2 linked regions of the Homo sapiens genome follow. The protein of the gene in region 2 interacts with the protein of the main gene of each other region in a pairwise test. Each region holds a gene or a part of one and is shown on either strand. Other genes may lie near its edges. The genes, in order: KCNH2 and FRMD8.

Region 1 (8,254 bases), on a different chromosome or scaffold from region 2:
TCTGCAGCCTGAGACACTTCAAAAGTACAAACAAAGCTAAAAATCAATGAATTTGTTTGCATCAAAATTAAGTATCTTTGTTGGATAAATTGAAGAGAGACTGAATGGGAGAAGATATTTGCAATATCTGTTTCCAGTTCAACAAGGAATTAAAATCTGGAATACACTGAATGTTTAACAGTATGCATTGGTATCTCTAGAGTACACAAGCAACTCCTGCAAATCAACAAGGACAAAAGACGGCGACGTCAAAATTAAAATGAGCAAAGGACATGAGCAGGCAATTCACGGGAAAGTAAGCCCAAGAGGCTACCAGGCCTAAGAGATGCTCAGACTCAACAGAAATCAAAGGAATGCAAATTAAAGCAACAAGAAATCACTGTCACCTATTAGATTGGCAAAATTTAGAAAGGTAGATAATGTCGAGAGTGGCCAAGATATGCGGGTATGGGAATCTCGAGCTCTGAGAAGGAGGGTGATGACAGGCATGGCAGTACTTAGTTAAGTGTCCACATGTCCCGCGATCCAGCAATTCCACTCCCGGGCGTGTATCCCACAGACATCCTCACCCAAGTCCAGAAGGGACCATGTCCAAGGATATTCACTACAGCCTCATTTACAGTGGCTGGGAGTTGGAGACATTGTGGGGTCCCTCCCCGGGAGAGTGGGTGGGTGAAGCGTGGCGGCCGCATGCCACTGAATACGCACCTACAGACTAGATGTCGAACAGCAACCCAGCTGGACTTAAAGCACATTCCCAAGTAAGAAAAGCGAACACCAAAATACAACATATAGCACAATATCATTTACATAAATTAAATCTATATGCATATATCCAGACAAAATACACATTTGCAAGAACATATGCAAGCAACACATTCACAGTAAGTACATTTGAACGGTTGCCTATGGGGAGGGTAATGAGACTGGAGAGTGAGATAAAAGGGAAAAGGAAAAAAATGAAAGAGAAAGGAAAAAGCAATAACACAAATGCTGTGGTTTCAATTATTTGGGGGAGAGGCAGGACCCGGGGCCAGCAGCAGCCTGCAGGGAGGGAAGGGGAGAGGCAGGCAGCATGCAGGATGGGGCGGGGTGCACCATAGGAGCAGGGGTGCTGAGGCCCCGGATCAGGCTCATTTCCCACGATTGCAACAGCACGGGCTAGGAGCTGCAGCCACTTAGGTGACGCCCTGCTTCATGGCGAGGAGAATGAGCTCTGGCACCGCACGCTGCTTTGTGGGTGTCTGTCATCTCATTCCAGGAACACCCTCACACCCCAAAGTGCATCAGGGACAGGCGCTATGATCCCACTTAGCAAACGAGGAATGGAGGTTTGCAGACCCCAGCTAAAATCCAAGTTTCCTGAGGCCCTGAGCCCATCATGCCCCAGAAGGGCTCTCTGGGGGCAAGAGAGCTGGTGCAGTGGCATTCCACGCTGGGCAGGGAGGGGACAGCTAGGCTCGGGTTCCCACTCAGGCCACCCGCCAGCTGGGTAAACTTGGGCAAGTGCCTCAGCCTTTCTAAGCAAGAGCTTCCCTCCCATAAAGTGACGGAGAGGAATCCTGCCTTTCACAGGGCCATGAGGACCACCTGCGGTAAAGCATGGTTCCCCAGTTTGCAAACTACAAAGTGCAGTCACAACAATAGAAGTGCCTTGTGCTGCTGGTCAGGTGGCATCACCCCCACCTCAGCTGTGCTCTCTGTGGCAGCTCTAAGACTCTGTCCCCCCACCCCATCCTCCTCGGTCCACCTCTGAGGGTGAAGCTGGGAGCCCCCAGATGCTCCTGTGCCCCACAATGTCCACGCAAAGCAAGGCTAGAGGACTCCCAGACACAGCAAGTCTGTAACCAAGCTGGAAACTCCTGCCAAGTCACCTGACTCCCAGGGAAGGCTCCTGCAACGCAGCACACTGCCCACCCCATTCATTCATTCATTCAGCAAACAGTGCCGAGCTCTCGCTGTGCACTGAGCACGCAGATACAACAGAGAACAAAGCAGATGGGCTGCTCTCCACCCACCTGGAGCTCAAGGCCTGGTGGCGGGGAGAGGGACAGGGAACCTCCTCCAGTACTGCAGGAGGCGGAGGACCAAGGCTGCCTGGCTCCCAAGGTGTTTCTCATCCTGGATAAGCACCCAAAAAGGAGAGGGGTTTATCTGAGGCCAACCACAGGCCACAGCATAGAGATCTTTATGGGCAAGACTAAGGACATGGAGGGGACTTTAGGGGAGCACCCCACATTCATCACCTGTCCCAGCACCCCTCCCTCTTCTACTGACCCTGACTCCCATGGCCCTCCTGCCCACGTCGGGAGGGAAGTTCTGTTAAACTCCCTCACACTAAAGGGCTAAATACTTTCTGTCTCTATACTGGGAGGGGGCAATGAGAGAGAACGTGTTTTTAAGGAAAAAGGAGCACTCTAAACGCAGAAGTTCTCTAAGGGAGGAGTTTCAGGAACGCTTCAGGGAAATACCAACATGTGAAGGGCTTTCTTGGAACCTCCAAAATCACCCCACCCAGGAAGCCACCTCTGGGGAGAAAAGAGGCCCAGTCTCCCCCCTCACACACCCCCAAGCTGGCCCTTCTGCTGCCCCATGGCCCCCCTCCCCAGAGCCCAAGGCCACCATCAAACTCTGCTCCCATCTCAGACAGCTCTTCGCAAATATTTACATAGCTCCTCTCCGGGGGCTGCAGAAGACGCAACACGGAGAAGCCGCTCTCCCGACGCTCTCCAGACCCCAGGGTGGGTCAAGGAGTAGATAGCACCCTTCAGTTGCGTCATGCCTGCCTCACCCCTGGAGCAGGACTGGGATAGGAAGACTGCAGCCCCGGCAGACCAGGACAGACAGCCGCAGCTCAGGAATGACCCCCGTGGAGCCCCTCCAACAGGCCTCTGATCCAGCTAGAGAAGGGAAAGGTGGAGGGAAGGTGCTGCAGGGCAAGAGGCAACTGGCTCGGAAGCAGGGCCCCCATGGACCCCCGCCCGCACCTGGCAGCCCTGCAGATTCTCCCACTCAGCCCTGTCTCCAGGCTGCACCAGGCCTTGACCAGAAGGATAGGAACACCGCTGTCCCCATGATGAAGGGCGCTCCCCTGATAGCTTCAGTGCCACAGGAAAAGTTCTCCTGTGTCTAAGCCCCATCCTCTGGGATCGCTCTGGTCTGCCTCCTATCTCAAGACAAGAAAACCCACTTATACACCAATCCCTGTCCCACCTGCCTTCCCAGCCTCAAGGCTCCCCTTCAAGGAAAAGCTTCTTTCATCCTCAGCTCAGACCCAGGGGGCTGAAAAGAAGCAGAAAGTGGGTGTCTGAGCTGGGGAGGGGTCAGCCATGAGGGAGAAGGTGAGGCGTGGTGGTGACAAGAGCAGGGCGTCTGATTTAAAGGAATGGGCACAGGAAGAAATGAAGAAGGCAAGGAAGAAGACAGGACAGACGGCCTTGGGGGACGGAGAAGGGCAGGAGGCCCAGAGGAGTGGGGCTGATCACAGGAGGTACTAAGGATTTCAAGGCAGTCTGAGGTCTGAGGCCTGCAGGAGCACTGGGGAGGCTGGGTTCCAAGGCCGGGGACAGACCGAAGCCCACTGGGCGTGGGGCCACCTCTGAGGCCCTGGGCACAGTGCACTGGGGAGCAGGCCTGGACAGCAGGTCCCCACCCCCTCCCAACAGCCGCAGCATCAGCTGTTGCAGTGGGGGGCCCTCTGACCCTGTTACCATGGCAACTGGCCTGCAGCTGGAGTGGAGAAGCTAATAGACTCCTCTCCAGAGACACCACCGTCCCCACCCACGCACAAGCTCCCGGGGACACAGGGACATGGAGCCAGGCCAGGCCAGTCAGAGGTATGAGCAGCCAGACAGAGCCTTCCAGATAGAGGCTCCGAGGGGTGGGGGACAATGGGAGAGAGGGAGAGAGGCAAGGAGCAAGGTTCCGGGGTGCTGAGGCGAGGGAAGAAGACAGGAGGAGGCACCAGAGAGGAGATAAAGACCAAGGGACAGAGAGTAAGCCAGGCAGGCAGAAGACAAAGGCAAGGAGATGTGGGGAGTGAGAGAGGAGCCGAGAAGGTGGGCACAGTCAGGCTGGCTGAGCACGGTGGCAGGGAAGCAGGGAGCAGAGGCAGGAACAAAGAGCAGAGAGGATGCAGGGGGACAGAGAGAAGGGACTCTGTGAGGACTGGCAGAGGAGGAGCCACAGCCCCCATGGCGATGTGGGAGCACAGGTGTGGACCCAGCCAGCACCTGCTGCCCGGGGTGCCTCCCCAGGGCCTTGCGGGGATGTTACCGCCAGCCAGCCTCACACCACTGGACTCTGCCCCCAATTCCACCTGAATCCCGGGCCTGACTTCAAGGGGCACAGGGCCAGTGAGCCCCAGGCACCTCATGTCTCTCCCTTCAGCCCACACTCCCCCAGTCTAGCCTCCCCACCTCCCAGCAGTCCCAGCAACTAAATAATGGGGCTGTCTGGCTCCAGGCCCTGACACTGCGCAGAGCAAGGCTAGAGGCACCAACACAGCACAGCTGTCCACGGCGGCGCCTGCCAGCAGAAGGCTCCACCTCCTGCCCAGCTCCCCCTACCCGAGGCTGGCCCAGGCAGAGACCCTGAGAAAGGCCTGGACAGAAACAAGGGGTGGCGCAGGCATTCCTCACCTCCGCCTCCCTACCAGGCCCATGTGTGAGTACACACACAGGCACGCACACACGCAGCCCAAGCCAGGTCCCGGGGATCACAGGAGGGACTGAGTGTTTCAAGGCAGAAGAAGCGGAGGCTGAGGAAATCTGTCTGCATCACCCCAGGCCTAGAATGCCAGGATACATGGGGTCCTAGGTGGCTGAGTGCCAGGCCAGCCTGTTGGCCAACAGGAGACACCTGAGCCCCGTGGAAACTAGGTGAGAGTGAAGAAGGGGACAGACAGAGATTGCTGGCACAGAGTTTTCTGGGTCACAGCCCCATTTTTTGGAGTTGTAACCTGGAGAGGGGACAAGTTTGAACTTGGGCTGGGGATCTGGGTTCTAATCCCACTCCTTCCACTGATTCACTGGTCATCAGACCTCTGCTTCTCCGTCCTTCCACCTGCAAGTCGAATGGGTTGGATTAGGTGATCCCACAATAACTCCTCTGCAGAAGGGGGCCCATAGCCATCCTCTCCAGAAGGGGCCAGCCTAGACTGGGAGGGAGGGCCAGCTCCACCTAAGAGCACTCCACACATACCACAGCCAAAGGAAAGAGCCCTCAGCCGCTGCTGCCAAGAGGCCAAATCCCCAGCACAGCTACATCGTAGTGGGACTGGCACCGTGTTTACAGAGCACGGCCCGTTGCAGGCACTCTCTATGAAAGCTCAGCACCCTTGTGAAGGTCCAAAGCAAGGCACGTTATCCCAGAAGTAGAAACAGGCCCAGGGAAGTCAACCAACTTGTCCAGTAGTGTATAATTTCCAGCATTGTCTTAGACACAAACCCAGGACTTATGGGTTCATATTCTTTTCAGTACACCTGTGGTTGGCAAACTTTTACAATAAAATTTCACATGAGATAATGTACAGCATACAGATAGACCTGCAACTACCTGGTGTCATTTTCAATATATGACAGACAGAACAGAGCGCACAGGGCTCCGGTCAGACAGATGTGGGCTCCGTTCCCAACTGCTATTTTCTAGCTGTGTGACTGTGTGAACTTCAGTTTCTTCATCCCCCAAAATGAAGACAACAGTAGTGTCTACCTCCCTGGGTTGTGAAGAGTGCCTGAGATAAGAGAAGTAAAGCATTTGGCCCAGTGTCTAGCCCCTAGAAACCATCCACTGCCTTCAGGGTTTGAGTCTAGTCTCACAGCCCCTGCCTCCTGCCAGTTAGAACCCTGATTTGCTGTGAGCGAACCTTCTTCCACAGGGTGCAGGGACCATGCCCCCTCTAGTGCCGTCCAGTGATGCCACAGACTGTGCACGCCTGCAAAAGCACAGCCTGGAGGATGCAAAGCTTTGCAGGGCCACCCCAGCCAACCCTGAGCACACAGGGCTGGCACATGGGGCTGGCTGGCCTGGTCCCAAACAGAAAGCAGAGCGTGCTCACTGTCTACAGCAGACAAGCTCCCTGAGGGCAGGAGCCTCATCTGTCCTGCCCATCTCCAAGAGCCTAGTGCCTGCCAGGCTCACAAGGGTTGAGTCAATGCTTATGGGACACACGCTAGGAAGCAGCAAGGTTTGCACGCGTTCCAGAGCCGCCTCTGCAGCCGGATTCTGCCCACAGGACCCCAGTCCTCCTGCTCTGCCCGCCCTGACCAGAGCCCACCCCAACAGGGCATTCACGGTGTGGGAGCAGCCCCACCCCGGGCTCTGTTTATCCGCTCTCCGGAAGCCCAGAGCAGCTGTGCTGGGAGGCGGTGGCTGAGTAAAGACACCTGGCGCAGGAGAGGGTGGCAGGGCGGGGCGCTCGACAGCTGAGACAAAGGGAACTGAGGTTGCGGGGAGAGGCACGCACCTCCCCCAGGTGCTGCTGAAGCGCAGGGCAGGAGGGGGGCAGCAGAGACAGCCAGAGTCCTGCAGCCCTCCTGTCCCTCCATGACATCTCCCAGACCTGTCACCTGGCAGCAACTGCCCTAAGGTAGATAGGGGCCTGTGCCCGGATGTCAGCGCACAACTGCCAATCTGACCTTTAACCTCCATCCACGCACGTACCTGCCATCCCAGCTCGGTCTAACTCTAGTCCAACTTGCTCTACGTGCCCACACCTGCCCAGGGAAAAAAAGGACCAGAGGAGCCAGACCCACAGCCTAGCAACTCCTTTGCCCTCCTGAAAACCATCTCAGCAGAGTGAGGCGCAGGCCCCGGAACCGCGCCTCCCACAGGCACACCGCAGGGCCCCCGCCCGCGTCACACCCCCACAGAACCCTGCCCGGGCTCGGGGCGTTCTCCAGCCGCCCCCACACCCCCACACCCCCACGCACCCTGCCCCTCGCCGTGGTCCCGCCCCTCTTGACCCCGCCCCTGGTCGTGGCCCCGCCCCGGCCCGCTCCTACCATCTTTCCGGTAGAAGGCGATTTCCACTTTGCGCTCCTCGGCGCCCAGCAGTGCCTGCGCGATCTGCGCGGCAGCGCGGCGCTGCGTGCGCGGCCCGTGCAGGAAGTCGCAGGTGCAGGGTCGCTGCATCACCTCGGCCCGCGAGTAGCCGCACAGCTCGCAGAAGCCGTCGTTGCAGTAGATGACGGCGCAGTTCTCCACCCGAGCGTTGGCGATGATGAACTTACGGCCTAGGGGGGCGGGGAGGAGAGTGCGCGTGAGCGGGGACCCCAGCCTCCGGGACTCCCAGCCCTTCCCCACATTCTCCACTCACACAGCCGCCCGGGGACTCCCCGCCACAGGAAGCATGGCTGGGACTGGGGTCCCAGCAGGGGGCGAACGCAGCTGTGCGTGTGCCCCGATACAGGTGCCTGGCCGGCCGGGCCGCGCGGCGCGCCCCCTCCTCCGCCTGGCCCGCGGGCGGGCTGCGTGGCTTCCCCCGGGCAGGCCGCCAGCAGCCCGCCGCCTCCTCCATGCCCGAGGCTGAGGCCAGCCTGGCGGGTGTCAGCAACGCGTGTCAGCAGCCGCGGCGGAGGGATAAACACTGGGCCTAGAAAGGGAGCCTGGGAAAGGCCAGAGATGGCGGCCAGGATTCCCTTTGCATCGGCTCTCTGGATTCTGCTTTTAATTTCCCTGCTCTCCAGACTGGGGGGCGCTCCCTGAGCCACTCCTTATCCTGAGGCTCCCTAGGAAATCACTCCCCGATTATCTGAGGATCCTACCAGGTCAGTACCCCCTAGAACTTCTGCACACCACCCCCGCCCCAAGGGCAGTCAGGAGCTGAGGGGTGGGTGTGCCAGAGAGGATGAGGGAAGTTACACGTTGAACACCTAAGGACGCTGCATCTCATTAGGTCCTCTGACAACCCCATAAGGTAGGTGTTATTATCCTCCTTTTATAGATGAAGAAACCAAGGCTCCAGAGAAGTTCGGCACCATGCCCAAGTCTTGCAGCTTGTAAATGATAGAGCCAGCTTTTGAACCTTGGTCTGGCAGAGGCAGAAGAATAAGCTGAGGGTCACAGGCAGAAGCCCAAGGTCATAGGAAGCAAAGAGAGGGACCTGCAGCTCCAAACCCTGGACACACCTGGAGCCTGGGCGGGGCCTGAGACTTTGGCCCCACTTGTAGGAAAACAGACCCAAGAAAGGGGACCTGCCCAGGGATGTGAGGCCTTCCTCAGTTTGGCCTCATCCTGGATGAGCACCCCCATG
Region 2 (9,138 bases):
CCTTGGCCCCCTCCTGTGCGAACCAGCAGGCTCAGAGACCCTGTTCACTGAGGGACCCTGGGCTGAGTGTCTAGAGAGCCACCGCCCTTAAGTCCCTCCATCTTGCAATTTCAGCTTGAAAGGGCAGGATGTGGGTGGTCACGAGGCCAGCCAGGCAGGGCTGGAGGCTGAAGACCCCCCTCCCAGAGAAGTCAAGTCTCTACTCTTCCCACCCTCACTAAGAGCCTCAGGGTCAGAGGGGCCTACTTCCTGAGCCATGTCCCTTCTCCTCCCTGTCCCCAAGGAACAGGAACAGTTCAAAGAGGCCGACCGGGAAGCCACTCAGGCCTGGGTCTGTCTTGCTCCTGCCACACAGTGGTCTCGCCACCCTAACTACAACTTCCATCTGCAAGACTGGCCTAGGCCTGAGGACAAGGTGAAATCATGGTTCCCAAACACCACCCAGGTTGTGGCAAAGGTTATGCTCGGCAGACAAGGCCCCCTTCCTCCCTCCCTCCTGCGGTACTGTTCCTGGACCACCCAGTCCCAGCACGACCTGGGGGGCAGGCGTGTCCACTCCTCCACCACCAGCAGAAAGACAGACAGCAGGGCCAGGAGCGGGGGCCTTCTCAGGGCTCTAGGTGCTCAGACAGGTGGACAGCTCAGGATAAACCCAAGTCCCACCTTTCCCCATGGGCAGTGGCCAGCGGCTCCCCAGCGGCTCCAAACACTGCCCCCTCCCTCCTGTACTGGTCAGTGCCCTTCCAACCCTCCAGCCTGGGCTCCTCACTGCCAAGCCTTACCCAGCAGAGGGGAGACCAGCCAGAGCGCGAAGACATCCAGGGCGATGTCTGGAAGCTGCAGGACCTCGCGGACAGCGCGGTGCAGCTCATGGGCACTGAGCGAGGGCAGGTTCTCCACAGCCAGGGGCACCACCGTGTCATCCGCTAGGTATACCAGCACGTCAGCCGCTGTGATGGAGACCAGGCAGGCTCAGCTGAGGCCTCTGCCTGGCACAGCCAGGCCAGGCCAACCAGGCACCCTCTACCACCCACTGGGGCTGGAGCCCCCACCCTACACCCCTCAGGGGTGACCAGGGCTACGCTCCTGAGACAGAGTCCTCGCCAGAGGCAGAGCCCCAGCAGCCCCAAAAGACCCTATCACGAATGCTATCTATTAGTGCTTCCTTGACACCCTTAAACCACCCAGAAACCCAGTAACTCCTGCCCAGAGACCAGCCCCACCGCAATCCCCCAAGATTCAAATTAAGCCTGGCCATTGCAAACCTGCCCCTCACCACCATAGCTGCCCCAAGGATTCAACTGTTCTTCTGCCCTGAACAAGAACATGCCACAGATGTGAAACTACAGCACAGAGAGGCTGAAACCACAGCATAGAGAGGCTGAAACCATCCTGAGGCTATGGCAGTTAGTCTGGCTGGCTGGCAGGAGCGAGAGCTGGTAACCCGCTGCTGTCCTTAGGCAAGTCTCTCTCTGACTGAGGCTAAGATGCGAAGAGATAATTCTTTAGGTCACCCAGGTTAAAGCAAGTTCCAGGTCTCAGCTTCCTTGGGACTCTTTAAGTCTGAGGACTCTTTAAGCCTCAGGAGTCAATACGAAGCAGGCTAGGGAAGAACAGCCCAAATAGCTGAGAGTTCCCTTGTGACAACTTGTGGGTTCCAGAGCCAAATGGAGACACCTGGAAGAGCAACCAGATTCAAATCCCCATCCCTGAGACTGCAGGCATGGTGAAGGAACACTGGAGTTTGGGGCCGACATACTCGGGTTCCCATCCTTGCCTGGTCGCTGGCCAACTTCAGGGAGTCAATTTAAGTTGTCAGTTGCCTCATCTGTAAAAGTAGAGCTAATACTCCTCCCTCCAAGAGTGTGTGGAAGGGAAGGGCACGGTTTCTCATCTACACAAGAGAAGGTGCTCCTCGGACCCCCAGTCTGTTATGCTCCAGCAGCTACTCTCAGAGATCACAAAATCACTTCGAGGAGGCTCAGGTTCAGATCTACTTCTCAGGCAAGAACTGAGGCACCAGAAGCTGCAGTATGTAATCACCTGGAGAGCTTCCACAGCCTGCCTGGGACTTAACCTCCCTAGGGCCCAGTTTCCTCCCTATCAAATGAAGATCATGATATGATCCCTGTTTTTTTTTTTTTTTGAGACGGAGTTTCACCCTCGTTGCCCAGGCTGGAGTGCAATGGTGCGAGCTCAGCTCACCGCAACCTCCGCCTCTCAGGTTCAAGTCATTCTCCTGCCTCAGCCTCCTGAGTAGCTGGGATTACAGGCATGTGCCACCACGCCCAGCTAATTTGCATTTTTAGTAGAGACAGGGGTTTCTCCATGTTGGTCAGGCTGCTCTTGGAATTCTCAACTTCAAGTGATCCACCCGCCTCGGCCTCCCAAAGTGCTGGGATTACAGGTGTGAGCTACTACGCCCAGCCTGATCCCTGCTTTCAAAAGGCTGTTTGGGAGAAAGAAAGGACACAGCCGGGTGTGGTGGCTCACGCCTGTAATCCCAGCACTTTGAGAGGCTGAGGCAGGCAGATCACGAGGTCAGGAGATCGAGACCATCCTGGCTAACACGATGAAACCCCGTCTCTACTAAAAATGCAAAAAATTAGCCAGGCGTGGTGGCGGGCGCCTGTAGTCCTAGCTACTCGGGAGGCTGAGGCAGGAGAATGGCGTGAACCCCGAAGGCGGGGCTTGCAGTGAGCTGAGATCGCACCACTGCACTCCAGCCTGGGCGACAGAGGGAGACTCTGTCAAAGAAAGAAAGAAAGGAAAGAAAGAAAAAAAGAAATGACACAAAGAAAGTGAACGTGTCACTTTCTTTTTTGTCTATGTTGCCCAGGCTGGTCTCGAACTCCTGGGCACATGTGGTCTGCCCACCTTGGCCTCCCAAAGTTCTGGGATTACAAGCATGAACCACATCAGCCTTCACTTTTCATTCATATAATCTCATTTGAATTTCACAGCTATGTTAAACAAGCTCATTTTACAAATGAGAGCGAGGACCCAACCTGGCCAGTAAACTAGTGACAGAGCCTCTGACTTCTGTGAGTTTTCCACATCTGAATGTACCTTATTATTTCTTAGTCGATACATAAATTATCTTTAATGAAAAAGAAGACAAGCCAGAGCTACTTCTCCAGGGCTGGGGTCCCAGGAGGGTGTGGAAGAGGAGATGCGGGTGGGACCCACCTCGGGCTCCCACGGAGGACACGCTGCTTCGGTGGGATCGCTCAGCGGGGCCGGGCTGCCCGGCACTGCCTTCTGTCCCGTCCATCTGCAAAGGCAAAGAGAAACAGCAGTTACCGGGAGCCAGGGATGGGGGGCTGGAGGTCTCCTCAAGCTCTCGGTGAGTACGGTAAGGGATCCCAGGCTGGGTCCGCAAGGTTGAGCGGCGCTGCCTGGAGGGGCCAAGAGTGCAGACCGGGCGCTGGTGGGAGGGGTGCGGGTTGCTACGGTCAAGAACCGGGGGTCGACCTGGATGCCCAGGCAGGGCAAGGCGCACGCCCAGCCGGGGACGGAGGCCCGGGCCAGACGTCGCTGTGCTCTCACCTCGCAGGGTCGCAGAGCCCGCCACCTGAGAGGCAAGGCTCCTGCCTGGAATCCTGCCCCGCCGCCAAGCCCGCCACCGCCCGCACTCGGGCTCCCGCTAAGGACGCAGCTGACCGGGAAGCGACGCGGAAGCCACGGCGGGAGGAAGCGCGGCGCCCGAGGCCCCGCCCCCTTCGACCCGGGGGAGCCAATGGGAGCCCAGGGCCGCCCCGCGCGGCCCGCGCATGCCCGGACGCCAGCCTCGCGTGTCTCATCACGCCCGTGGGGTGGCCGCGTCACGTACCAGCCCCGCCACCACCAGAGTGACCCAGAGCGAGTTTCCCTTCACAAAGGCCCCGACTGTTGGCCTGTAAGAGGGTTTGGCGAAGATTCGAGAATCAGGCTAGGGGCGTTGGCCTGCCCACGCTGGGTCTTCGGGCTAGTTCCCTGCCTGTGAAATGGACACTTCCTGGCACGTGCCAGGGATCCATGCGGCGCTGGCAGCGGCCTGTACCGTGGCGCTCTCGGCAGTGGTCAGGAGAATGAGTCCTGGCCCAGACTCATCCTGGACAAGTCCCTTCTCCTCTGGGCCTCAGTTTTCCTCATCTGTAAAATGAGGTGGTTGAACTGAATGACCCCCAAGGACTATCCCTACTCTCTAAATGATTATTAATATATGTCTATGTCGGCCGGGCGCGGTGGCTCACGCCTGTAATCCCAGCACTTTGGGAGGCCGAGGCGGGCGGATCACGAGGTCAGGAGATCCAGACCATCCTGGCTAACACGATGAAACCCCGTCTCTACTAAAAATACAAAAAATTAGCCGGGCGAGGTGGCGGGCGCCTGTAGTCCCAGCTACGCGGGAAGGCTGAGGCAGGAGAATGGTGTGAACCCCAGGGGGCGGAGCCTGCAGTGAGCCGAGATCACACCACTGCACTCTAGCCTGGGCGACGGCGAGACTCCGTCTGAAAAAAAAAAAAAATTTATATATATATGTCTAAATCAGAAAACCAGGACAGACACTCTGTTTTTCCAGGGAGCAGTGACATGAGCCCTTACTATCTTACACAACAGCCTGGGAGACCTTGAGGTTTTCCCAGGCTGGGAGGAGACTTGGGGCCCCAAAGAGGCAGGTGTGAAACCACCTACCCTCAGGGCCATGTCACTGACATGTCCTGGTAATGCAACATGTGTGCATCTGAGATGTGGAACTCAGGGAGAAAAATAAGTCCATGGGGCACCTTCTGGGGCCAGAGGAACCAGAAGTTGTCCCAAGTGACAGCAGTGGGCTTGGTGATCAGGAACAGAGGGCAGTGGGTTCACTTTGCCCTGGTTCCCTGGGATTGGAAAGCAGCTCTAGCTCCTGACCCAGTCCAGCCTTCTTTGGTATGTGAACCAGCTCTGCCTGCCCTCCTATGATCCACACTGCCCCACAGCTGAGCCCATGACATCACATTTGCCTTGCCAATGTGACTTAAGGACTTGAGGAAGCTCAGATGTGGGCTGCAGGGAAGGGTGTCCAGTGGGGGCAGGCATCTCCTTCCTGGTTCTCAGCTCTGGGACCCTCAGACCAGGACACACTGTATCTCCATGGCCTCTTGACCCAGCTGGAGTGAAGCAGGAGCAGAAGAGTTCAGTGTTGTTTTGAATGCTTACTGGATGCGGGGCTTGTGCTAGGTCAGGGGATGGAGACTGAGGGGAGACGTGGCCCTGCCCTCAGAAAGTGTCTGTTGTGGTTTAATTGGTGAGTTAAGGAAGAGGGGAAAGAGAAAGAAGCCCAGGAGAACAGCACATTTAAAACCACAGCACTTTGGGAGGCCGAGGCAGGAGGATCGCCTGAGGCCAGGAGTTCAAGACCAGCCTGGGGAACATAGTGAGACGCCATCTGTAAAAAACCCAAAAATTAGCCAGGTGTGGTGGCACACATCTGTGGTCCTAGCCATTCAGGAGCCTGAGGTGGGAGGATCGCTGGAGCCCAGGAGTGTGAGCTCACAGTGAGCTCTGATAGCGCCATCCTGCCACTGTATTCCAGCCTGGACAACAGTGAGACTCTGTCTCCAAAAAAATAAATAAAACCACAGAAGATGACAGCATTGCCTTAAGAACTATGAAATGCTACAGGCAGGAAAAGTCTCTGCTCACTTGCTGTGTGTGGGGCACTGGGCCAGGCCCTTTCCCCTGTTTCCTGTGTCATTCTCATGCGTCCTGAGAGTGGAAATAAGTATTAGCAGTTGCCATTTACGTGCCAGCCACTTTTTAAAGTGCTTTAATCCTTAGAACTCACTAAGAGGTGAGTATCACATCTCTGTTTTATGTCAAAGACTGACACCTGGGAGTGTCTGCGGTGGTGGTGGGGAGGCTAGAACCCGGGTCTAGTCAAGGAGGGGCACTGGGAGAGAGTCCGGGAGGCTGATGGTGGGGAAGGAAAGGCATTCCAGGTAGTGGGAACTGCACGAGCATGGTTAGGACCCCAGGAAAGACCCCCGCTGTGTGAGAGCATAGCAGGTGGGTGGCACCATGGGGGAGGCCTTGAACCCCAGGATGACAGATATGGGGCAGGCGTGTTAGACAGTAAGAACATTTTGGAGGTTGTGAGCTAGAGATTCACAAGATGACGCCATGCTTAGGTGGGCTTCCCTTCAGCAAGGCTGTAGGGAAGTGGGAATGAGGGTCTTTCTCAAACTGGGGTGAGGCGGTGAGATTGGAAAAGAGAATGAGACCCATTCTGAAGTGAGGGAGGAGGCGGCCTCCAGCCTTTAGAGCTGAGAGGCTTAGACATCAATTAGCCCGACTGCTGTCCTACTTTGGCAAACAATAATAGACCCCAAGGCCCACAGAAGAGGTTGCTCAACATCACTGAGAGAGATAATGTAACCGCCCATTGGGTTCACCTTACCCTCTGCCTAGACAGAGCCAATTTGTCAAGACAGGGGAATTGCAATAAGGAGAGTTTAATTCATGCAGAGCTGGCTGTACGAGAGACAGGAGGGTTTTTTTTTTGTTTGTTTGTTTGTTTTTTTTTTTTGAGACGGAGTCTCGCTCTGTTGCCCAGGCTGGAGTATAGTGGCATGATCTTGGCTCACTGCAACAGCTGCCTCTCGGGTTCAAGCGATTCTCCTGCCTCAGCATCCCAAGTAGCTGGGACTACAGGCGCCCGTCATCACACCCGGCTAATTTTTGTATTTTTGGTAGAGATGGGGTTTCACTATGTTGGTCAGGCTGGTCTCGAACTCCTGACCTCAGGTGGTCCTTCCGCCTCGGCCTCCCAAAGTGCTGGGATTACAGGCGTGAGCCACTGCGCCTGGCCTGTATCAGTTATAGTTTTTGCAAAGGCAGTTTCAGGAATAAGAAGCAGAACCAGGACTGCAGCCCAAGCCACCACGAGAGGCCAGTCTTTGGGGATGGTCTTTTAGGATGATCTTTGGGGGTGGCCCAAGGAGCCCCAGGCAGCTCCAGAGGCAGGAGGTAGGAGGTCCTGTTTCCCGAATCTGTCCACCCGGGAGAAAGCAGCAGGGGTGGGTGGGTTCTGCCTTGGCCACAGTGAGAGGAGAAGGGAGAGAAGGACTGGGCCTTGGGCGTCCCCCATGGGAGACTAGGAGCTGCGGGGAGATCTGGAGGGGAGGGTGCAGGTGTCACTGGGCCTTGATGTTTCCCAGGGCCGTTTGGTGATGGGAAGAGGGAACTGGAGCCCCAGGCTGCCGCTGATGCTGCTGGCTGACATTTCCGTTCATTCAGTCACTCAGGATTTATTGAGAGCCCACCCTGTGCCACCCGCTGTGCACAGAACACCCAGAGATCCCTGTCCAGACAGACAAGTTCTTCCCATCGTATGTTGGCGTGATAACTGTGATGGAGAAAGAGAGGAAGAGCCAGCAGTGCCTCCGGCTGGGGAGGCGGGGCAGACCTCACCCAGGTGGTGACATTTGAGCCCCAGCTGGAGGGGTGCCAGGGCAAGAGTGCCCAGGAAGAGGGAAGAGCCAGTCCACAGGCCTGGAGACAGAAGGCTGACTGAAGAAGAGTCTGGAGGCTCGGGTGGCTGCAGCAGAGAAAGCAAGGGGGTGGGTGGCAGGACGTGAGGTCAGAGGAGAATGGGCGGCACCCTGTGGCTCACAGATCCTTGAAAGGGTTTTGGTTTTGACTGAGCAGAATGGTGCCATTGCAGATCAACACGCACTTTAAATAATCAAAACCCCTATCTTTCCCCTGGGAAGGAGGAAGCCGAGGAAGGCTGTGTTTCTGACTCACACGGGGGAGTCGGGGGAGTCGTAAACAACCCTGAAGAGAACAGCCAGGCCTGGTGAGTCACTCCTGGGAGTGGCTCCTCCCCACCCTGCCACGCAGCGGCAAATGCGGGCTGGGCCTACCCCCTGGTGGCCACGCTACCTCCGCACCCGGCCTCTCTCTGTGGCATGGGGGCGGCCATGCCCCTTGGTGGAGATGAATGGGAGTGGAGCTGGGCTGGCTGGGCAGGCAGGGGCTTGCCTCTTGCTGACTAAGGCAGCCCTGGAGGGGCCCGACCATGGGGCAGGAACCCAGTTGCCATCCTCAGAGCGAGGATCATTGGCCGGGCTCGGGGATCAGGGCCTCTGTGGTCCCGGCACGCCTGGCCCGTGAGACTGTACTCTGCACGACTCCTCCAGGTGGCCAGGGTCACCGGAACTGGCTCGCTCTCCTCTGCCAGTTGCCGGAGGTCTGGGCACCAGGCCAATTCTCACCTTCCCGCCAGGGTTAAACATTAGTGGGAGGTTATCAGCGTGGGCCAGGGGAGGGAGAGGGGGGAATTCAACTCTGTCTCCTCTGCTGGAGCCACCAGTTCCCGCAAGCCCAGACAATGCCGGTGGAGGAATTTGTGGCTGGCTGGATCTCTGGTGAGACATTTTTCTTCCTTCTGTCACATCACACCCAATGGTAGGTCACTTCCTCGGGAAGATGGGTGACATGGGAGGAGCAGAGACCAAAGTCTGAGTTCCGGCCTGGCGGGAGGATCACTTGAGCCCAGGAGTTTGAGACCAGTCTGGGCAACATAGGGAGGCCCCTGTCTCTACAAAAAAATCAAAATAATTAGCTGGGCATGGTGGCTCACACCTGTAGTCCCAGCTACTTAGGAGGATTGCTTGAGCTCAGGAGTTCAAGGCTGCAGTGAGCTATGACTGCACCACTGCACTCCAGCCTGGGTGACAGAATGAGACCCTGCCACAAAAAAAAAAAAAAAAAAAAAAAAAGAATCAGGGCATGGTGGCTCACACCTGTAATCCCAGCACTTTGCGAGGCTGAGGTAGGAGGATCACTTGGGGCCAGGAGTTTGAGACCAGCCTGGGCAACATAGGAAGACCCTGTCTTTATAAGAAATGAGAGGCTGGGCGCGGTGGCTCATGCCTGTAAGCCCAGCACTTTGGGAGGCTGAGGTAGGTGGATCATGAGGTCAAGATTTCGAGACCAGGCTGGCCAACATGGTGAAACCCCGTCTCTACTAAAAATACAAAAATTAGCCAGGCGCGGTGGCGCACGCCTGTGGTCCCAACTACTCCAGAGGCTGAGGTGGAAGGAGCCCTTAAGCTCAGGAGGTTGAAGCTGCAATGAGCCATGATCATGCCACTGCACTCCAGCCTG

The links.
Region 1: the proteins of FRMD8 (region 2) and KCNH2 interact in binary tests that used the Homo sapiens proteins (3 or more experiments, as listed by UniProt).

What each region holds. Positions count from the first base shown.
Region 1 is NC_000007.14:150,967,707-150,975,960, forward strand, and holds part of KCNH2 (voltage-gated inwardly rectifying potassium channel KCNH2), read right to left. Parts: intron 7,770-8,254; exon of another isoform or gene 7,612-7,769; intron 7,336-7,611; exon of another isoform or gene 7,319-7,335; intron 7,236-7,318; coding exon 7,005-7,235; intron 6,801-7,004; exon of another isoform or gene 6,671-6,800; coding exon of another isoform or gene 6,664-6,670; intron 1-6,663.
Region 2 is NC_000011.10:65,381,173-65,390,310, reverse strand, and holds the start of FRMD8 (FERM domain-containing protein 8), read right to left. Parts: upstream 3,675-9,138; 5' UTR 3,550-3,674; intron 3,275-3,549; coding exon 3,190-3,274; intron 951-3,189; coding exon 783-950; intron 1-782. Other genes in the region: SLC25A45 (solute carrier family 25 member 45), read left to right, coding at 8,360-8,396. UniProt on the Homo sapiens protein: Promotes the cell surface stability of iRhom1/RHBDF1 and iRhom2/RHBDF2 and prevents their degradation via the endolysosomal pathway. By acting on iRhoms, involved in ADAM17-mediated shedding of TNF, amphiregulin/AREG, HBEGF and TGFA from the cell surface.